Linked DNA regions of Homo sapiens. The protein of the gene in region 3 interacts with the protein of the main gene of each other region in a biochemical or structural test. Each region holds a gene or a part of one and is shown on either strand. Other genes may lie near its edges.

Evidence for each region. Proteins that work in one complex are often made in the same cells at the same time.
Region 1: the proteins of NOTCH3 (region 3) and BAG2 form a complex in vitro, tested with the Homo sapiens proteins (one study listed by BioGRID).
Region 2: the proteins of NOTCH3 (region 3) and TNNT2 form a complex in vitro, tested with the Homo sapiens proteins (one study listed by BioGRID).

What each region holds. Positions count from the first base shown.
Region 1 is NC_000006.12:57,175,326-57,182,346, reverse strand, and holds part of BAG2 (BAG family molecular chaperone regulator 2), read right to left. Parts: intron 316-7,021; coding exon 206-315; intron 1-205. UniProt on the Homo sapiens protein: Co-chaperone for HSP70 and HSC70 chaperone proteins. Acts as a nucleotide-exchange factor (NEF) promoting the release of ADP from the HSP70 and HSC70 proteins thereby triggering client/substrate protein release.
Region 2 is NC_000001.11:201,374,660-201,382,033, forward strand, and holds the start of TNNT2 (troponin T, cardiac muscle), read right to left. Parts: upstream 3,022-7,374; 5' UTR 2,964-3,021; intron 1-2,963. Other genes in the region: LAD1 (ladinin-1), read right to left, coding at 7,229-7,234. UniProt on the Homo sapiens protein: Troponin T is the tropomyosin-binding subunit of troponin, the thin filament regulatory complex which confers calcium-sensitivity to striated muscle actomyosin ATPase activity.
Region 3 is NC_000019.10:15,183,982-15,191,002, forward strand, and holds part of NOTCH3 (neurogenic locus notch homolog protein 3 precursor), read right to left. Parts: intron 5,448-7,021; coding exon 5,292-5,447; intron 5,194-5,291; coding exon 5,008-5,193; intron 4,368-5,007; coding exon 4,254-4,367; intron 4,014-4,253; coding exon 3,900-4,013; intron 3,358-3,899; coding exon 3,124-3,357; intron 3,008-3,123; coding exon 2,897-3,007; intron 1,699-2,896; coding exon 1,506-1,698; intron 1,428-1,505; coding exon 1,276-1,427; intron 1,039-1,275; coding exon 925-1,038; intron 470-924; coding exon 314-469; intron 1-313. UniProt on the Homo sapiens protein: Functions as a receptor for membrane-bound ligands Jagged1, Jagged2 and Delta1 to regulate cell-fate determination.

The sequences.
Region 1 (7,021 bases), on a different chromosome or scaffold from region 3:
TTGGGGTAGAGAGCATGCTGGAAGAAATCTCTGAGTAAGTGGCTGCTGTAATGAACTGACAGCTGCAGCTGCTCTCTGTGGCTCACATTAAATGCTGTGGCCTGGTGTACGCATACCAAAAGTCAAGCAAAAATTGACCCACACTTATCATAAACTCTTTAAAGGAGTGTAAAAGATGAGCCCCTTCTGTGGAGATGGCTCTCACCGTCACTGATCTGCCTCATGTCCTGGCTATTTTGGATACTGTGGATCATTTCCAGAAGGATTTCTTTCTCTTGCTCAACAGCAGTTGCTGCTTCTCTCAAAGCTTCAACCCTATAGAAATTGGGAAAACAAAACGGTTATTGTATGCAGGATGTTCTTCCTATTAATTTTCTTTATCTCTCATTCAACCCAAATCAAGTTTAAAGATCACCAAACTTTTCAAAAATTCTTCATTTCTGCTTTAAAATTCTTTCATTTTTCTATACACTTGCCTTTCTCCCATTTTCCTCCCAGCTCATAAGGCAATCATTCTTTCGTGTTTATCTAATTAATACTATTTGTTTTTTACAAGATCTGTATTATTTGTATATTTTGAATTTATATCTCATTCTGTTTTTATTTTTTCACTTAGCATCCAGGTTGCTAGATTTTTGTTTGTTTTTTGTTTTTGAGACAGTCTTGCTTTGTCACCCAGGTTGGAGCACAGTGGCACAATCTCACCGCAGCCTCCACCTCCCGCTTTCAAGTGATTCTCGTGCCTCAGCCTCCAGGCCCGGCTAATTTCTGTAGTTTTAGTAGAGACGGGGTTTCACCATGTTGGCCAGGCTGGTCTCAAACTCCTGGGGTTTCACCATGTTGGCCAGGCTGGTCTCAAACTGCTGGCCTCAAGTGATCTGCCCACCGCAGCCTCCCAAAGTGCTGGGATTACAGGTGTGAGCCACCACACCCAGCCCCCTATGTGTACTTCTAATCAGTTGCTGCTAATTGCTGTATAATACTCCATGTGTATACCTACCTGATTTTCCCTCTCCACTCTCCCAGAGATGGACACTTAGGTTGTCTACCAGCTTCTCATTACTACAAATAACACTTCTATGAATACATCTCCCCTTTGGACCTTGGTGAGGATTTCCTTAGGACATATACCAGGACAGAACTGCTAAGACAAAGGGTATGTGTACTCTGCTTTTGACTTAGTATTATGACTATTCTGCAGAACACCTGTACCTATCCACTCTCCACAGCAAAGCACAGGGGTCCCCATATCCCTACCAACATTCTGCATTTTCCAACTTTCTATTTGCTGCCAGTGTGACAGAAATACACTGATATGTCAGTGTTAACTTGTGTTTTCCTAATAATTTCAGACATCTCTTTGTATCCTTGTTAGCCTATTCATAGACTTTTCCTATTTTGCTTTTCTATTTTTAAACAGGAGTTACTGTTCCCTTGTTGATTTGTATACTCAAGAGATTCTTGTTGGTTACAGACATTGCAACCATCTCTCATCCTCTCATATATGAACCACGTCTGGGATGTCTTGCACTAAAGAGAGACTCTTATTTTGATGCGATCAATTTTTTTTTTTTTTTTGCCTTATGGCGTATGCTTTTGAAGTTTTGACCTAAGGTCTTCCCCCACCCTTTGGTCCTATTTTCCTATATTTTCTCTTATTAACTTTATAGTTCTACCTTCCTTATATTTATGTCTTTAATCCACCTAGCATCAACCCCTGCATGCAGTTAGGTAAGAATGTTTTGTTTTTTTCTTCCAAATAGCCATTTTCCCCAACATTATTTACCAAGCAATCCATCTTTCCCCTAGCGAATGTATATTCGCTATTTATCTCTAAAATCTCTATGCCATGCATTAGTGTATTTAACTGTTCTTATACCAGTGCCAAGTTTTGGGTTTTTTTTTTTAATAGCACTAGCCTTGTACTACACTTTAATATTTGATAGAGCAGGTCCCTCAATCTTCTTTAAAGATAACTTAGCTATTTATGGACTTTTACTTCTCCAACTTTTCCATATAAATTCTAGGGTAAGTTTATTGTGTTTCTCAAAAAACAAGAGAAATTAGACATCTTTATAACATCTCTCTGTTTAAAGGCATGATATATGTCTCTTCATTTATTCAGATCTATAGAGTTCCCATGTATTCTTCATAGTAGTCTTCGTGGATATTGCTGCTATTGTGAATTTGTATTTTCTACTTGATTTTTACTGGTTTGAGAAGTGCTGTTTTTGTAGGTTTATCTTGTCACTGGCAACCTTGATTTACATGTATTCATTTTAGTGTTCAGTCTGTTGATTCTGTTGGTTCTTCTAGGTTAATAATCATATCCATATCATCTGCAGTTTTTATTTCTTCCTTCCCAATCCTATTACTTTTTTTTTTTTAAGAAAAGGTCCTTCAGTACTGTATTAAACAGTGGCAATCATGGGGGTATCTTTGTCTTTTCCCAAATTTAAGGGAAAATCTCTGTGGCTTTTTTGTGTAAAGCCCTGATCAAACTATAGAAGCACTACTTTCCCACTTCACTCAATTGCACACACATGCACTCACACTATACACACACATGAATATACCCAGTCACTAAAAAACTAAGCTGTGGAATAAGGGCAAAATAAAGAAATATATATTGTATATTTAACATGTTCTATACTTCCAGGGAACGTTGTTATTATGAATTACAGTAACTAAGATGCCAACTTTTGCAAAATGAAAGTGACAGACCTATTCCCAGTATTTGGATGGTCTTAGAAATACAAGTTCATGAAAGATCTAATCCTAACTGCTGTCTTAAGTGTGCACAGAAAGAACAACTTCACCAATGTTTTAGCACGTTCAATTCCATAAAAGGATCCTCTCCCTGCCCTAAGCACACACATGCCTTTTCCCCTTCGGTTACCCACCTGTTATACCCCAAAATAGTACTGACAGGCTGTAAAATCACAGGATATCTTTATTCTTCAAGATATTAAATATATGTCAAAGTGTGTTTATAAGAGCCAGTAAAAGCAAAGAACTGGGAAGAATCGCATGTGACAAATTTGGCTAGAGAACACAATCAAAATACAAATATTCTACTAACTAATAGTAATGCAAGTATCAGGCCCTATTCCAGGACCATTCAGTATTTACTTAAACATTTTACATTAGCAATCTCTCAGAAAGATAAACTAGGGCCCAGAACATAGGAAAGAGACGGAGTTGGCACTAAATATTTATGCTAAAAGCACAAACCATGACTCCAATATTTAGACAAATGACACAGGTGAATCATGTGATTGATAAATGAGAAGATGCTGAAAGAAGAGATTAATTTTTCAACACCTTTTCGGTTTGTATTCAATTGTAAGATGATAAGAGAGAACAATGCTATTCTGAAAAGGAAGGTTTCATTTATGAGTTACAGCAGTAAGTTCATGTTCTTAACAAAATAGATAAAAAAGACATTCTAGAAAAAATATAATAAGCCTGTCATATGACGAAAATATTTTATCATTAAATGAGACCAAATAGTTAGGTGGAACTGCTAAAGTTTGTGTTTTAGGGACCCTCCCCCACCCCCATCCCACAAGGCTTTTTTTAATACATAATAGAAATTACCAGGGCATTATCCCTGTGAAAACCAGATTTCATCATTTATAGAACTTCTTATATACATTTTTATGTATACCTTTTTCATTTCATGCAAGGGTAAAATGTCATTCTTCAAAATGTAAAGATCTCAGGGTTTATTTGGCAACATGGGCTTTTCATGTCCTATTCCCTCTTCAGGTAGCATTCTTTCTCCCTGACCCTTGTCTACTGGGATCACCTTTTTCAAAACCCAATTGCTTCAGCAGGAATTGTTTCCTTAGCTTCCCCCTTCCTCTCCCTTAAGGCAATTCATGCTCCTTTTGGCCCTGGTACATCCATTTACTCTACAGTCTAAAATATGTCTACCTCATATTTTACATTTTTTCTTTTAAAAAGCTGAACCTAGATCTCTACTTAGTTTAAGTAACGTTTGTACTGTTTGTCAGCTATTGCTATCCTTAAACTCATATACACGTCTTTTGTCTACAATTTTTCCATTAGTTCTAGAAAATTCTTGGCTGTTGTATCTTTGAATATTCCCTGTCTCCCCTTCTGTTATTTTCGTCTGGAACTCTGGTTAGAGAAATGTTGGACCATCTCACTTTATCCTTCATGTTTCTTAATATCTCATCTGGCAACACTTCTGGCGGAGAAGGGCAGTTCTGTTTTTACTAACAGATCCCGGAAGCAGCTACACGTCCAAATTGGGAAAGAACTTTTCCTCACATCAAGGCTGGCCTGGGCTGTGCTCCTGGAAAACTCCCTGCATGAAATCACAACTAAGTAGGCTTTGACAAAAAGAAATTTTAGTCAGAGTACTCAGTAGGAAGACAAAACCGGAGCGCATGCATCCTCAGCTAGTACCCAGGTCTTGGGCACCTCACAAACCTCTGCAGTCTCAGTATCGAAACGGCAAACTGCTGGGAGACTTAGGAGGAGTACAACAGCAATTTTGCGCAAACTGTGGCTACTATTAATATGTCAGCTAATAGAGTATGCAGTGAAAACTGCGCCAGCACTGCCACTACTAGCTGTGCAAATGGGTCAGTCGCCTATGAAACAGGGATGATAAGGGAACAGTGCTTGTGACTAAATGAAGTAAAGCAGGTAGAGTTTAACAGTGACTGATAGCACTGACTAAAAAAATTACACACACACACAAGTTAATATGTATAATGTGTCTAGAATTGGCACTGGCATATATTTATAGTATTAATAGCTATTATATTCTTACCATTATGAATGTGGGCTTATTTATTAATGATGAAAATTTGTGCTTTCATAAAAAGGAGGGAAAATGGCAAATGCTCATACCATGATTTGAAAGAAATAATTTCTAAAACAGGTTTGTTTTTTTTGAGATGGAGTCTCACTCTGTCGTCCAGGCCGGAGTGCAGTGGTGTGATCTCAGCTCACTGCAACCTCCACCTCCAGGGTTCAAGTGATTCTCCTGCCTCAGCCTCCCGAGTGGCTAGGACTACAGACATGCGCCACCACGTCTGGCTAACTTTTGAATTTTTTATTAGAGATGGTTTTCACCATGTTGGACAGGCTGGTCTCAAACTCCTGACCTCAGGTGATCTGCCCACCTCAGCCTCCCAAAGTGCTGGGATTACAGGAGTGAGCCACCACGCCTGGCCTAAAACAGGTTCTTAAAACTCATAGTTCTGTCTCTTATTCCATACTCCTATATCAAAAGAATGCTATAATGATCACTTTTAGGCAATGTAAAATTCTGAAGTGTTTTCCTAATCACCAAAATGTTAAATTACATTTACTGTCAAGACATTTTGGTGTAAAAGAAGGGACTAGTGTTTTTAGTGTGAAGAGCCACTTTTCAGTAGCATGTCCTCAGGCAAGCCACTTCATCCTAATTGGACCTCACTTCCCTCATTTCTAGGAGAGAGAGTATGTGCCCTCCACCTAACTCGAAGGGTTCTTAAAGTTTCAAATAACATATATGAAGTGTTCTTTTAAATTACAGGCTGTCACACAGTATTAACTATGATGCCATCTTGTTTTGTGACTCCTAGAACACTGGCACACCCTAACATGAAACTTTAAGCCAGACGAATGATCCCTATCACCCCCAACCCCATCCCTTCACTACCTGGGTGCAGGTTAAGCCACAGTGAAAGGCTGACAGGAAGGCAGAAGGAGCCACTGTGTTATAAGTTTTGGGAAACATATGAAAAGCCAATCTCCCAGTCCTATCATTTTCCCCTCTGCCAGTCTCCAAAACCCATCCCCCAAACATCTTCATTACCATCTTGAGCTTTCTAGGAGCTACCCAATACCTAACACATAGTGGGTGTTCAATATCCACTGAATTAAAGGCCAATTTAGATTGAATTTTTATCTCTTAGAGGAAGCTCATCTATTCATCCATATATCATTTCTATATTTTGAAATGTGATATATTTAAGAAAATTCAGGCATAAAGTATTAGAGCCTGGAGAGCCAGTCTTCCTGGGTTCAAATTTGGAGTTTACTACTCTCTAGTTGTGTGACTTTGGACAAGTCATTTAAGCTTCTAAGCCTCAATTTCCCTATCTGTAGAATGGTGATAATAGTAACAACGACATGGGGCCTGGCACATAGTCCGTGTACATTAAATGAATAAACATTAGCCTGTGTTTTAGAAAAAACTCTCACACTGTGTTTTTCCTCTGCTCTCACACTGTAACAACACAGAAGGCTGTGACCAAATATGTGGGGGATTTGCAGCTAAGTATCCCCCAACTCAGTTCCAACACTCCCTACACCTGGAGACGGTATCAGATCCCACAAGTTGAAAGCTCAGTCCCCAAGACCCCACCCTCCACCGTTGCAAGTCTAGGCCTCCAGAACTTCTGACCAACTGGCTTCAAATTGGGGTTCCCATGTCCCCCTCTTTGGGTTTAACTTGCTGCAGCAGCTCACAAAATTCAGGGAAACACTTACTTATATTTACGGATTTATTATAAAGGGTATTACAAAGGACATGGATAAAGAGATGTGTAGGGTGAGGTACAGGGGGAAGGGGCACACCACCTTCCAGGAGCCTCCACATGTCCAGCTATCCAGAAGCTCTCCAAACCCTGTCCTTTTTGGGTTCTTATGGAGGCTTGCTTCTTTTATATAAGCATGAATGACAACCATGTAGAAAAGTGATTGGACAAAAAGAGTATGCCCTCACTCTAACAGACTGAATGGGGAAACCCAGCAAGGCCAGTCTATTCAGATTCTTCTTGGCCTCTGGGTGCTAAATGCCCTCCTCCAGGGCATAGGGCAGGACCCTCTCTGGAACGAGAGTCTTTTGACCCACAATCAGACTAGAGGTAAGGCAGGTGAAAGAAGGTCAGAGAGAGAGATTCTTTTTCCTGAGGCCTAAAGCACCCCAACATTATAACGTAAGACTGTAATAAGGGTTATGGGAGTTATGAGCCAGGAACTATAACATAAGACT
Region 2 (7,374 bases), on a different chromosome or scaffold from region 3:
TTTGCTGTGAAATTACTGCTCTTCTTGGGTAGGTGTGAGGAACAGAGGTAGTGTGAAGTGTAGGCATTCAGCTAATAACTACTATGACCCAACCCTCCGGGGCCATGACAGTGCACTGCTCCAGGGACACAATCACGTTGTTTGAAACGTGAACAGCAGCCTCTGTTATAGTGCAATATGCCAGCTCCACAGCCTTCCTGATGTTGGCTTCCAAGGGAGAGAATGGACAGGGTGATGTGAGAGTGAGGCTAAAGTGAGGCGGGAGAAGAATCCAAATGATGCTCAGGACCACCCTCCAATGCTCCTCCCCTGCTGCCCACCTCCTGCCCCACTCACGCGTGCCAGTGCTGCAGCACCAATTTCAGACCCAAGCCTCAGGATGAGGACAGAGGCACATAGACAGTCCTGCTCACTCCCTCATCACCTCTCCCTGCACATCCCCCCCATAGTGGCTGAGACCAATCCCAGGCACTCATCTGTGGACATCCAGCAAGAGCCAGGGCTCTGGTTGGGTGGGGTGATGTCCAGAGGCTGAGCCATTCCAAGGGAGCTGCCACTGCCCAGCTGCCCCTCCAGGTGGAGGCTTCCCCAGACTCAGCACCCACTGCAGCCCTGGATTGATTGTCTTCAGACCCTGTTCCCATTATGTCCAGTTCTGCTGGGTTAGAAACAAGCATGGCTGCAGCAGAGTGGTCCTTCCGCTGCTCCCTCTGCTGGAGCAGGGTGAGGACAGTGAGGGAGGAGCCTTGTTTACAAGGAGCTCTGAACCGCAGCTCTGAGCCACTTTTTTGCCCCAACCCCCAGGGTGGGGTGAGTGGGTGAGAAGAAGAGACATCAAATGTGCGAGGTGCTATAATGCGGGATCAAGCCTCATTCTGCTGAAAAAAAGACTCAAACCCCAGAGGTTCTCCAAATAGGTCTTAGGATGAGAGTGGCCAAAGAGAATAGCCTTCCTAACCCTAGGATGGGTGGGGCTGACAATTGTTACCCAAAGCCCCAGGGGAGCGGCCAGAACTAGTGACTTGAGAACTTGAGGAGCTCCTACCTGAGCCCCAGGAGAAGCTTGTCCCTCAGTGGGAGGGAGAAAATTCTCAGAGGAACCGTGCATGGCCAGCCTGGGCGCATAGCTTCTAGCTTTCTCTCTCCTCTCCTACTCTGCCCTTCCACCAGTTCAGAGCCACTGGGCATGGTGCTGGGGCCTCACAGGAGGACAGAGCAGCTTGGACTCCTCTCCCTGTTCCTGGGGGCACCATCCAGCTCCCAAAAATAGCATGCAGACATGCAGGATGGAGGAGGGCTTTCAGCCAGCCCAGAGGACACCACCATGCCAGTGGCTCAAAGGCAGGACCTGATGCAGGGGAAAGAGGTGGGCTGAGACTGGGGGCTGCAGAATGGGAGAGAGTCAAGAACCTGGCAGGGCAAGGAACCAGAATGTCCTGAAACACCTGTGTCCTCACACCCAAGTCCCACCCACTTCCACAGGCAGCTTTCTAGCCTAATGCATTCATAGCCAACACGTGTTGGAAGCCTAACACGTTCACAGGGTCACCTTTCTTGGGGAGTAAAGCAAAGACAATAGAAGGCATAAGGCATACTGACCTTGGGGTCAAAAAATCTGGGCTTAAAACCCAGATTTTGCTGTGTGGCCTTATTTAAGTCACCTAGCCTCTCTGACTTCAGTTAACCAACTACAAAGCAGGAGAGCCTTGAGTTCTGTCCCTGTAGAAACAGTCTCCGAGTTTCTGAGAAACACAGGCCCCACCCCTCAGTCCTTGTCCCCAGCACTCGAATGGGATTTTCCTAAGCCAACAGCTGTTAGCCCACCAGGAGAGCGGGGGTAAGGGGATGGGGAGAGGGCAGGAAGAGTGGAAGTGGGGGTCAGAAATAGGAGGCAGCCAGCAACCTGATCCTCTCAGATTCCACTTTTGCAGAGAGAAGGAAGATTCGCCCTCTAAGACATGGGTCAGAAAAGGAATTTGGGAGGGCAGGTAGCTTCCCGGCTACAGCAGGCCAGGAATGTGCTCTGAAATTCCTTACACACCAGGCAACCCCCTCCCTGAATAGTCCTCAGCCTGCCCAGGAGAAACTAGAAACCAAGGGAATCTTTCTCTACCACTCCTGGGCACAGAGCAAGGCTTGTCCCAAGATGGGGTGTTGGGGTGGGATGGGACAAGGGTTACACTTACGGGGGCCCAGGTTAAACCCTTTAATGCCAACCAGCTGGGCTCACACCCAAGGACAGGTTCTCCCAGTGGGGCCTTTCCCCATCTGCCCCCCAAGTGCAGCTCAGCTCAGGGTCTGGGAGCTCAGCTCAGCTCTGGGAGGGAATGGCACTGAGTCAGCGGCATCAAATGGAATTCCCGCGTTGGCCTGGAGAGGCGCTGCAGAGGACCCTGCACATCTGGTCGTTCTCAGTACTTCCAGGACAGTTTCTGAGTTCCTAGCCTTGAGAATATGACCAGGAGACTCACTTGACTGACAGGGCTGCAGTCTCGCTCTGCTCCCTGGGACTCAAGAAGGACCTGACTGGAAAGGTATAGGTGACCCTCGGCCTGGAACAAGCAATTTAGGGGAGTCTCTGTTGGTTAGAGCCTCATTGTATTTAGAGCAGGCAGAGGCCTAGCAAATATTTAGCCCACTCTACAGATGAGAAAACTGAGGCCTGGGGAGGGAAAGTGACTCATCCAAGAGTTTAAACTCTACATCTTTAGTGGCAGGTCCAGGACTCCAACCCTAGTCTCCAATGGCTACCATGGGATTCTCTCTTTCTCTCTGCTCTATTGTACCAATCTTGGAGCCCAGACCTGGCAACCTGTCCTCTGAAGTGTGGCCTCCACCAGGAGGGGCCATGGACTTCTGCGGACACAGGCAGACTCTGGGTAAATATGCCAGGGCCCAAGACCCTCACATCTCCCCGTCCATTCTCTGCTCTCCTCTTCCCCAGAGCCCTGCCCGAGCCTTACCTCAGAACAGCAGCTGCCGACAGATCCTGGAGGCGTCTGCTCAGTCTCAGCGGGGACTGGGTGAGGCAGAGGATGGAGAGGGCTTTAAGCAGGCATGTGGGCTGGGGCCTGGTGAGCCAGCCCTGCGGAGGGAGGAATGTGCGACAGGGGACGGGTGGGGCAGGGGGATGGCGGTGGGGGTGGGGGGTGTTGGCTGCTATTTTGGCAGGTGCCAGGGACAAGGCTACAGGAACATGTACCCCACGCCATATAAGCCCATGTGGTCCTCCAGCTGCTCAGATAAGCTATTTAAAACCAGAGCAGATATGCAGGGAACAGTCATGCAACATAAACCAGCTGTCCCTCTTGAGAATCCTGATAAAGCAGAGGCCAGCAACCCAGGCCTGGGAGGGCCAGCTGGGAGCAGGGTTGGGGGGCAGAAGGCAACCTCCAAGACACTCCATAAGTCTCAGCACCAGAATCTTGGAAGGCAGAGGGCAAGAGTTATGTGCTGCTCCACTTGAACTGATGCTGGGGGTAAAGACATCTTCCAGGCTACTGGCTCCTAATGGACTGAGCAGCCTTAGGCAGGTTGCCGGCTCTGCCAGCCCCAGTGAGGACATCTGCAAGGTGGGTCTTCTCCATGACCCCCAAAGCCATGTGGCACACCCTCCTCACAGGGAATGGACTGAAACTGCTACAGGAGGCCAGATACAAGGTAGAACTTCCAGTCAAGAACCTTGAACAGGCGCTCGTTGTGTGAGAGGGGTGATGCGGACTGTCAAAGGTCATCCCCTAACGGCTTTAAAATCAAGCAGTGCGGGGCTATGATCTGCTAAACCTACTAGATTGCAGATGCATAGGTCAGGCCTAGGGGTCTTGCTTGCTTGCCTGTGTCTGACCATGCACATGCACTTGTATGTTCAAGGCTGGCCCATTGCAGGGTTTGGTAGATTATGAAAATGAAAGAGACAGGAGGAAAGCAAGCCAGTAAGCAGCTGAGCTGACTCTCCCCTCCATCTCTTTCTCCGAATCTTCACAGCCTAGGTCCTGCTTGGCTCTGAAGCAGGAATGGTCCTCCTCTGGAGCAGGCCCTCCCCTCCTCCATGACCCCCCCTGGCACTTAAAGATCTTGCCCATTCATGATCCACACTCCTCTGTTTCTCCGTGGGCAAAGAAAGCAATCTCGCTATTCTCTGCCCCCTTCTCCCATCACCCAATCATGTGTCCCGCCTTCCCAGTCCTCAAACTCTTCTCTCAATCCCTCTGCCTTGGGAGCTACTATGCTGCCTCCACCACTAATGTCCTTGAAAGGGTCCTCTGCGCAGGGGACTGCCATTTGCTCCACACCCATGCTGCTGTCAGACTCTTGTCCCATCACTCAGCTGACTCCATCCCCTCCATAGTTCCCTGTGGCCTCTGAGTCCAGTGGCCTTGATTGCCCTGCCACGTGGGCCTCCACACTGCCAGCACATCTGTGGCAGGGCAAGCTGAAGCCAACCGCCCGCTGGCCAGCATTGTGGGACTGAGGACCACCACAGGGAAGCAGGGGCACTTTGTAGAGAGACAGGCAGATGGAGGGGACAGATTCCCGAGGGATAGTGAGGAAGGAGTCAGGCTGTCAAGAAAGTGGGGGGAGCCCCATCATCTCTCTCTCCCATTCTAGCCCACGAAGCAGGGCCCAGCCTTGCCTTGGGTCCTGGCCTGGAGTAACGTAGAATTCGGAATTACTTTTCCCAAACCCTTTTTTAACTTGAGGGTGGGTTACTGTTCCTTGTAAGCCCAATAACCTTTCAAACAGACCACGGTTTATTTGCATGGATGCCTAGAAGAGGGATCTGGGCACCTAGGTCACTACTGAGCCCCATGGGAAAAGCCCAGTAGATCCTTGGTGTCACAGGCCACACGTGTATGGCTTCGAATTGTTCTAAGGCAGGAGCTTCGTTCAGAGCGCTGTGAGACAGCCTCTCAGATAAGGAAATCCAGCCCCCATGCAGCAGCCACTCCTGGGCATAGTAGGGTTACTCTTAGCCCATTTTTTTTTTATATCCCTGTCCTTTCAAAGGGATGTAAAGAGAAAACAAAGCCAGAGTGGAATGGGAGGCTTATGCTGAAACAGTGCATGTAAATTTGAGGATCCACAATAGGACGGGCCACTTGTGGGGCACAGGGCCCCTGTGGCAAGACAGCAGGAGGGTGCAGCCCGGAGTGGTGTGTGGGAGCCCTGTTCTGTCTCCAGAAGGTGCCCAATGTCACCCATCCAGAGGCCTCCCCACCCGCCTGGACACCCAGTCGCTACCACTCATCTATCCCCAGCTGAGGTCATCTTGGGCACACCCTGGTCTCCTTGTTTACTGGCTGCGTCCCCAGTAGGAACGAGGGCAGGGCCCTCACGTGCTGGATTCACAGGGGAGGGGGCTGTGCTGTAGCACCCCGACATTTCCCCTAGCAGTCAGCCCTCACTGGGCACCCCAGGGGAGGGGGGTGCAGGCATGAAGGGCCCTGCTGAGGCTGCAGCTGCAGGAACAGGCCCCTCAGTGTCTTCCTAGGCTCTTACTCCACGGTCAGGCCCTGCCAGGTGAAGGCCTCCAGGAGCCTCTCCTCTGTGTGGGGACAGTTTTGTTTACTGGAAAAGTTCACCTATCATGGCATGAACATATGAAAGTTCTCTGAGGTCATCTGCTTGAAGTTCAGAGAAGGAAAATGGCTCAGGGTCACACCTGAGGTCTGGGCAGAGCCAGAGCTGTTTAGATGTCCCGAGGCTTAGGCAGGACTCAATCCGTTCCTCGGCCCTGCCCCAGCCTTGTCCTCCAACTCTCGGCTATGAAGTTGGAACACTCACAAAGCCCCAGCACTAGCAGTGGGTGGGAGGTGCTCGGGGCAGGGACCCCAGGTCCCGATATCCCTCACTCAGGCACAGGAGACTCACTGACCAGAGGTGGGTCAGCCTGGGGCACTGGGACCTGAGCACGGATGGCACTTTGAGGGCCTGTCCCCTGGGGCACAGATCTGAGGAGCCCTCACCCAGAGTCACAGAGTAGGGCTAGGGCTCATCCCCCACACACTTGGGGAACTGGACTGGTGATACCCCCTTAGGAGCCGTGTTAAGGGTCGTGTTCCAAAAAGACCTGGAGCTTCCCCAGGCATGCAAAGGGGGAATGGGCAGGGGGCTCTGCACCTGGCCACATCCCCAGCTGATTCTGGGTAAAACTAGGGCAGTCAATCAAGATGGAGAGTTCTAATGATTTAAATTTTTGAAAAGTTGTAAACCACAGCTTTAAGGGGTTAACAGGGCACCAGGCTGATGTTCCTAGCTTGGTTGGTTCTAGATTCTCTGATGGTTCACCATGCTCCAAGCTCATAGGAGCCATGAGGTCCAGAGCATGGGGGTGGGGGTTGGAGGGGGCTTGTGGGGAAGGAGGGTAGGCCTGGCCCTGTATGTGGCAGTTCCCAGTCACCAAGCTAGGACTGCTGAGTGGCAAGCCACCACCTTAATGTGAGAAGAGGGGGGATGAGGAAAATGATGATCCTCCTCACACACTTCAGGTGACCTCTGCTAGAAAGCAAGGCCTCCAGAGAGGAATTCGCTTCTAAGGTCTCATCAGTCTCTTACACCTGAGAGTAAATGAGTTTATCAGATCCTTCCTGAGAACAGGTTTTTCAGAGAAAGGGTAAGTGGTTGCACACAAAAAGGCACTTAGCTCCTGGCCATGGCAGCCGGCCAGGGAAGGGAGGGGAGAACCAAGCAGGGAGACGGGGCACAGGGAAGACGCACGGCAGCTCCTTCTCCCCTGGCCAGAGCGGGCCTCAGTGGCTGGGAGCAGGCCCCAGGGACAAAGATGGGTGGGTCCAGGCCTCAGAGAAGGGGGACATCATAGACAAAGAGGCACTTGCTGGGAGCCGATGAGACAGGTGACTCTGGAGTTCTTGAGGGGCGCCGTGCCCTGACTGTGGATGTGAGCAGGAAGGAGCAGAGGTCTCTGGGCAGGACATAGGCCCCATAGTGCTGATGTGCACTTGTGCTGTGACCTGGGCAGAGACTGGGTCCCAGCATCTGTTGTGCCTGCCGCAGGGTGAGAAAGTCCCAGCCCCAAGAGGCTGGGCTGGGAAGGAGCTGGCTGAGTCTTGCAAATATTCCTGACCCCAGGGACCCTGGCCAAACAGATCCACAGGCAAAAAGGGAACAGGGACAATGAGAGGAAAGGGTGCTGCTGTGAGAGGCAGGGGCCTGGCATGAGGGAGGTCCCTTGAGACGAAGACTTGCAGGTCTGTCTTGGCGGGGCTTGTCACACCTGTGGGGCAAAGAGCTGTTAGCACAAGTCAATGGGGTGTCAGGGATGGAAGGGGAAGGGGGCCACTGGATAGGAAGGCATCCCTTTGCCCAAGCCCCACACCCACAAGGAGTCAGAGCCCTGTAATCTGCCAGCTGAAG
Region 3 (7,021 bases):
GCAGTGAGCGATGATTGCAACACTGCACTCCAGCGACAGAGCTAAGACTCTGTCTCAAAAAAAAAAAAAAAAAAAAAAAAAAAAGAGGCAGCACACAGACTCCAAGGTTCTAAGCCCAGCTCATTCCCTAACTCGTTCCATGGGCTTGCACAAGAAGTCACTCAACCTCCTCGGGCCTCAGTTTCCATATAAATAAAACGGGAAAAGTAAGATAACTGTGAAGATGAAATGACAGCACAGTGCCAGGCACACAGTTCAAGCTTAATGACTGTGTTCCCCAGAGCAGCACCCCCAAGAGCTCCCCTGCACTCACTGGGGTCACAGTCATTGATGTCCTGATCGCAGGAAGGGCCAGTGTACCCTCCATGGCAGGTGCAGCTGAAACTCCCTGCCAGGTTGGTGCAGATACCATGAGGGCCACAGGGTGCGGGGCCAGCACACTCGTCCACATCCTGCTGGCATCGTGGGCCTGGGGGTAGGGAGCAAGGTTACACCTAGGGTTACAGGGTACAGAGCAGGGTCTCAGGGACCTGGGGCTCAGGAAGAACCTGCAGGCCGAGATGGGTGAAGGCAAAATAAGCCGTGCTGTCATTCGTGTCTGGGCATTTTGCATATGCAGTTTCAGAATGGCCGTCTCCCTGTCTCAGTAGGTGGCAAATACCTACTATGAGGTCTGCTCCTCCAGGAAGCTGTACCCTAAACCCCGCCCTAAGTCCCAGCATCTCTAGCCCCATAACTCTTCCTCTTCCAAGGGCTGACCCACACAGGCTGCATATCAGTGTCCAGCTCTGTCCTTCCAAGAAGGAAGCCCCTCTCAAAGGCAGGGCTGGGGATGGGTCCCTCTCTGGATCCCCAGCATCATCCCTGATAGGGTAGGGGGCAGAGGAGATGGAGAGGAGGAGGGAAGAGAAGCAGGTGGCATACCTTGCCAGCCCTGGGGGCAGGAGCAGACAGGCAGCTGGCCAGGGGCAGACTCGCAGCGGCCCCCATGCTCACAGGGGTTCGGGGTGCAGGGGGAGAGGAGTTCACACTGACGTCCTGTTGGGGGTGGAAGAGAGGGAAGCAGAGATAGCCTTGAGGGACTCCCTGATCCCATCTCCCCCCACCTCCCCCAACCCCAGGGTCCCCACCTTGATACCCACCTCCCAAGCTCCTGGAGGGAAATGATTGAAAGCAAAAAAGAAGCTAACATAGCGGGAGGAGAGAGTAGAGGAGAAGAGAGATGAGAAGGCCCATGGTGTTGGTGGGGCTGCAGAGGGAAGGTGAGGTACACACCCTGGACACCAGGCGGGCAGGTGCAGTGGAAACCCATTCCATCGCTGCTGCATGTCCCACCGGCCCTGCACGGCTGGGACTCACAGGCGTCTCGGGCCAGGCTCTGGCTGCAGCGGGGGCCACTCCAGCCAGGCTCACACACACAGCGGAACCTGGCAGGGGAAGGTAGTCAGGCCAGGGAGGTGGGCCAGGGAGAGGGGGCAGTGTCTGAGGCTGAGAAGGGCCCTCACCCGCCAGGTGCATCATAGCAGATGCCGTGACTGCAGGGCTCATGGGCACAGGGATGGCTCGGGGGGAGGCAGAGTGGGGGCAAGGAGCCAGGCGGGCAGAGGCAGCGGAAGCCATTTTCCCCATCCACACAGGAACCTCCCTCGCCGCATGGGCTGGAAGCACACTCATTGATCTCCACGTTACAAAGGGGCCCTGGGGAGTACACAAGCAATCTCATCTCAGAACAAAGTCAGCAGGGACAACCAGGGAGGGACGACGTGACCCCACTTAGCACACCCACACCCCCGAGCAATGACCTCTTTTTCATAACGCATCAGCTCTTGTGCAGATTAGGACACCCGCCTCCTCAACCAAGAGCTGACTTGCCCCAGATCATTCTGGTCCCCAAACTTCCATGAAGTCCCTTTCTTTTTCTTTTCTTCTTCTTCTTATTTTTTGAGATGGGGTCTCACTCTGTCGCCCGGGCTGGACTGCAGTGGCATGATCATAGCTCACCACAGCCTCCACTTCCTGGGCTCAAGCGATTCTCCCACCTCAGCCTCCCGAGTGGCTGGGACTACAGTTGCGCACCACCACGTCTGGCTAATTGTGTGTGCATGTGTGTGCGTGTTTATCTACGTATTGACTAATCTGGCTTTGGGAGTGTGTTTATTTTTTGTAGAGACAGGGTTTCATTATGTTGCCCAGGCTAGTCTCGAACTCCTGGGCTCAAGTGATCCTCATGTCTCAGCCTCCCAAAGTGCTGGGGGATTACAGACATGAGCCAACACACCTAGCAAAGTCACATTCATTTCCACTAAGGATTAGTTTAGACCCATTCAGAAATAACCTAGTCACTGAGTTTGGACACTTTCATCTATGTTCCAGAATAATCTTTTTGTTTGTTTTTGTATGTGTGTGTGTGTGTGTGTGTGTGTGTGTGTGTGTGTGTGTTTGAAATGAAGTCTCACTCTGTCGCCCAGACTGGAGTACAGTGGCACAATCTTGGCTCACTGCCGCCTCCGCCTCCTGAGGTCAAGCAATTCTCCTGCCTCAGCCTCCCGAGTAGCTAGGACTACAGGCGCCCACCACCACACCCGACTAATTTTTGTATTTTTAGTAGAGATGGGGCTTCGCAACGTTGGCCACGCTGGTCTCGAACTCCTGACCTCAAGTGATCCACTTGCCTTGGCCTCCCAGAGCGCTGGGATTACAGGCGTGAGCCACCGCGCCCAGCCTGCAGAATAATCTCGAAACAACCTTATGCCAATGAGACAGCACAGACTCAGGGCAAAGCACGGACAACCTCGTTGGACAAGAGTCTGCAAAGATACGGGCAAAACAGGCCCACAGAGACGAGTGACTTCACCCTCGATCTAAGGACCCCCTCTCATGGCAGCCACTTGCCCACCTGTGAAGCCAGGTTGGCAGACACAGTCGTAGCGGTTGATGCCATCACGGCAGACTCCAAAGGTGCAGGGGTTGCTGGCACAGTCGTCAATGTTCACTTCGCAGTTCACACCTAGGGGCCAGGAACATGGCATGGAGTGGCCACCACTGTGCCCCACTAGATGCACCATTCCCAAACCCTCTGTGCCCCTCCAGGTGTGCTGTTTCTGCCCCAGCCCCCGGTCCCACCTGTGGTCCCAGAAGGGCAGCGGCAGAGGTACTTGTCCACCAGGTCTAGGCATTTGCCGCCATGGCGGCAGGGCTGGCTGCGGCATTCGTCCACCTGGCTCTCGCAGCGTGTGCCCGTGTAGCCAGGAGCACAGGCACATGAGAAGCTGGCGATGCCATCCACGCAGCGACCATGGTGGCATGGGTCAGGGGAGCAGTCGTCCACGTTGCGATCACACAGCGTGCCCTCAAAGCCTGTGGGGCCAAGAGGGTCAGGCTCCGCCCACTTGCCAGGGGCCTGCCCACAAGTGAGGCCTCGGACCAATCCTGGTTCAGCTCTATCTGAGGCCCTGCCCATCAAGCTGTCAGGAGGCGAGCTCAATACAGGCCCCACCCCCCACCCCCCACTTACTTCCACTCCACCCCACTACAAGCTCCAGAATTTGTCCCTAGCCAAGACTCTCCCACAGTTAAATCCCGCCCCCAGCTGTGGCCCCACCTCCAGCCCTGTTTCTGCCCCACCCTCCACTGGAGATGGGAGCACATGGCAGGTGCCAGGGGAAGGTATTGGGCCCTCCCCATTCAGTTACAGGCACCCTGTGCCCAGCCCAACACTTTGGCTCCACACGTAGCCTTATGTCAGTCTATATGCATTATTGGCTCCACCCCCCAACTCTGTCACTGGGTCCTGCCTTGCTACAACCCCGCCCCCAAGCTCTCCCCAAGTCTGTTATTGGCCCTGTCGCCCACAAGCCCCGCCTCCTGATTCTTGTCGGACTGTCATTGGCCCGCCTCACCCTCGGCACAGCGGCACTCGTAGCCATCGGGCTGGTCCACGCATTTGGCGCCATTCCTGCAGGGCGTGCTGGCGCATTCGTCCACGTCCAGCTGACACGTGGAGCCGCTGAAGCCTGGGGTGGGGAGTGGGATGAGCAGAGGCCCAGAAAGGGTGAGAGCAGTACACCCCTCTCCAGCCCCGCCTTGTTTGGGTGGAAAAACCCATTTACTTGGATTTAAATTAACTTCAATGTTTCATAACATATGGTTTCTATTGTAAGTTATCCGCTAACGTGGTTTTACAGGTTCCCACCCTGGAGTTTTTGCCCCTTCCCAGACATGTCTTTTCGGGCTCCCTCTCCTGAGGTCCTCACCCGAGGGGCAGGTGCAGCTGAAGCCATTGACTCGGTCCTTGCAGACCCCACCGTTGACACAGGGGCTACTCTGACACTCGTCAATGTCCACCTCGCAATAGGTTCCTGTGAAGCCTGGGGCAGGGAATAGGGCTTAGGAAAGCGGGGGCTACCCTATGGTGTGAACGGGGTGCAAGGAAGGAGGTACTTCCCTTCCTACTCATCGACAAATCCCCCGAGCCTTCGTCCCCACCTCTACACTCCCAGCCCAACCTTAATTTTCAGCCACAGGCTGGACTGTCACCCAGCCGTGGTCCCAACTGGCCCAAGGCTCATGGGTGTCCGCAGAGGCCTTGCCTTCAAACCCCTCCTCCTCTCCCCAGTCCTCAGACTAAGCCCTTTCCCCAGTCCCCAGCCCCCAGCCCCAGGGCCCCCCATAGCCTTTGCCCAGGCTTACTGCAAGCTTGTCTGCAGGCTTCACCTTGACCTCACAGCAGCCCCGACTCTGCCTCTCTATCCCCAACCCCTTCCCGAGTGGGTCCTAAGGCCAAGAATACTCCCAGCCCACCTGAGGTTCTACTGACTCCATTTGACCAAGCCCCCAGAATCACACAGTATTCCCTTCTGGTCCTGACCCCACCTCCTTCCAGGCTTCAGTCTCTAAGGGTCCCACTCCAAACCCACTTACACCCCATTCTGCTCAGCTCCCCATCCGCGGGCTTCTCTGTCCCCGCCCCCTGCCTCAGGACCCGCCCAGGCCACGCCCACCACCCACCTGCCATACAGATACAGGTGAACTGGCCTATGCGGTCGAGGCACGTGGCCTGGTTTCGGCAGGGCCCCGACAGACACTCGTTGACATCGGTCTCACAGCGAGGTCCAGTGTAGCCACGACCGCACTGGCACAGGAAGGAGCCCTGCGTGTTCACGCACCTGCCCAAGTGCTCGCAGGGGTTGGCGCCTGCCGGATGGAGTGCGATCGGTGTGGGCGTGGCTGGCCGGGACCCCCTCCTCTCCCCTCTTTCCCAGCCCATTCACAGACGATGGAGCTCCCCTCACCGATAGAGCACTCGTCCACATCCTGGTCACATGCCCCACCCGTGAAGCCGGGAGGACAGGTGCAAATGGCCCGGCCGTTCACCGGATTTGTGTCACAGATAGCATCCTCGTGGCAGGGGTTGCTGACACAGGCGTCATCCAGGTGACACAGGAGGCCTGGGAAGTGGTAAGCAGAAGTCATAGGCAGATCTTCCTGCTCTGCCCAAAAGGCCCACACCCCTTGAGTATTGTTTTGTCGTTGTTGTTGTTTTGTTTTGTTTTTTGAGACGAAGTTTCGCTCTTGTTGCCCAAGCTGGAGTACAATAGCGCGATCTTGGCTCACTGTAACCTCCACCTCCCAGGTTCAAGCGATTCTCCTGCTCAGCCTCCCGAGTAGCTGGGATTACAGGCATGTGCCACCACGCCCGGCTAATTTTTTGTATTTTTAGTAGAAACGGGGTTTCACCAAGTTAGCCAGGTTGGTCTCAAACTCCTGACCTCAGGTGATCTGCCTGCCTCAGCCTCCCAAAGTGCTGGGATTACAGGCGTGAGCCACCGCGCCCGGCCTGTTGTTTTTATTAAACCTAAACAGTATTTAGTAGCTGCTTTTTTAATCCATTTATTATGAGAACTATCAAACATACAGAAAAGTTGACCATTCATATACCCACCACCTAGATTCAACTATTGTTAGCTTAATCTACCAATCTTCTTTTCTAAACCATTTAAAAATAAATTGCAGACCGGGCACAGTGGCTCACGTCTATAATCCTAGCACTTTGGGAGGCCAAGGTGAGTGCATCGCTTGAGTTCAAGAGTTCAAGACCAGCCTGGGCAATATAGTGAGACCCGTCTCTACAAAAAATACAAAGCTTAGCCGGGCATGGTGGCGCACGCCTGTAATCCCAGCTACTTGGGGGACTGAGGTGGGAGGATCACTTGAGCCCAGGAAGTCGAGGCTGCAGTGAGCTGAGATCATGCCACTGTACTCCAGCCTGGGTGACAAAGTGAGACTCTGTCTCAAAAATAAAATAAAATAAATTGCAAACATCCACATATTGTTTTAAAACCTTTTGACTCTTCTGATTACAAAAGGGTCCTACACTCCAGCCTTTGCTTCTGTAATACCCTCTGCCATGTATGCCCTCTTTCTATATCCACGTTCCCCTCCTAAACATGTTCTCTGATCTTTGCCACTTCCAAAGGTAACTCCCAGGAGTTCCCCATTCCAATGGCTTCTGCCCTGAGCCATGCATCAGTGCAATGTCAGCCTCCTCCCAAGCCTCTCCCAGGCTTACACTTCCCCACTAAAGCTGCCTCCAGCATCATCTTTTTTTCTCTCTCTTTTTTGTTATACACGGTCTTACACTGTCTCCCAGGCTGGAACGCAGTGGCTCAGTCTCAGCTCACTGCAACCTCCACCTTCTGGGCTCAAGCCATCCTTCAACCTTAGCATCCAGAGTAGCTGGGACTACAGGCATGCGCTACCATGCCCAGCTAATTTTTTGTATTTTTGGTAGAGATAGGGTTTTGCCATGTTGCCCAGGCTGGTCTCAAACTGCTGAGCTCAAGCAATCTACCCGCCTGGGCCTCCCAATGTGTTGGGGTTACAGGCGTGAGCCACCACACCCAGCCTACCAAGTTTTTGTAGAGATGACAAAAACTCACTATGTTGTCCAGGCTGGTCTCAAAGTCCTGGGCCCAAGCGATCCTCCCATCTTGGCCTCCCAAAGTGCTGGGATTACAGGCAT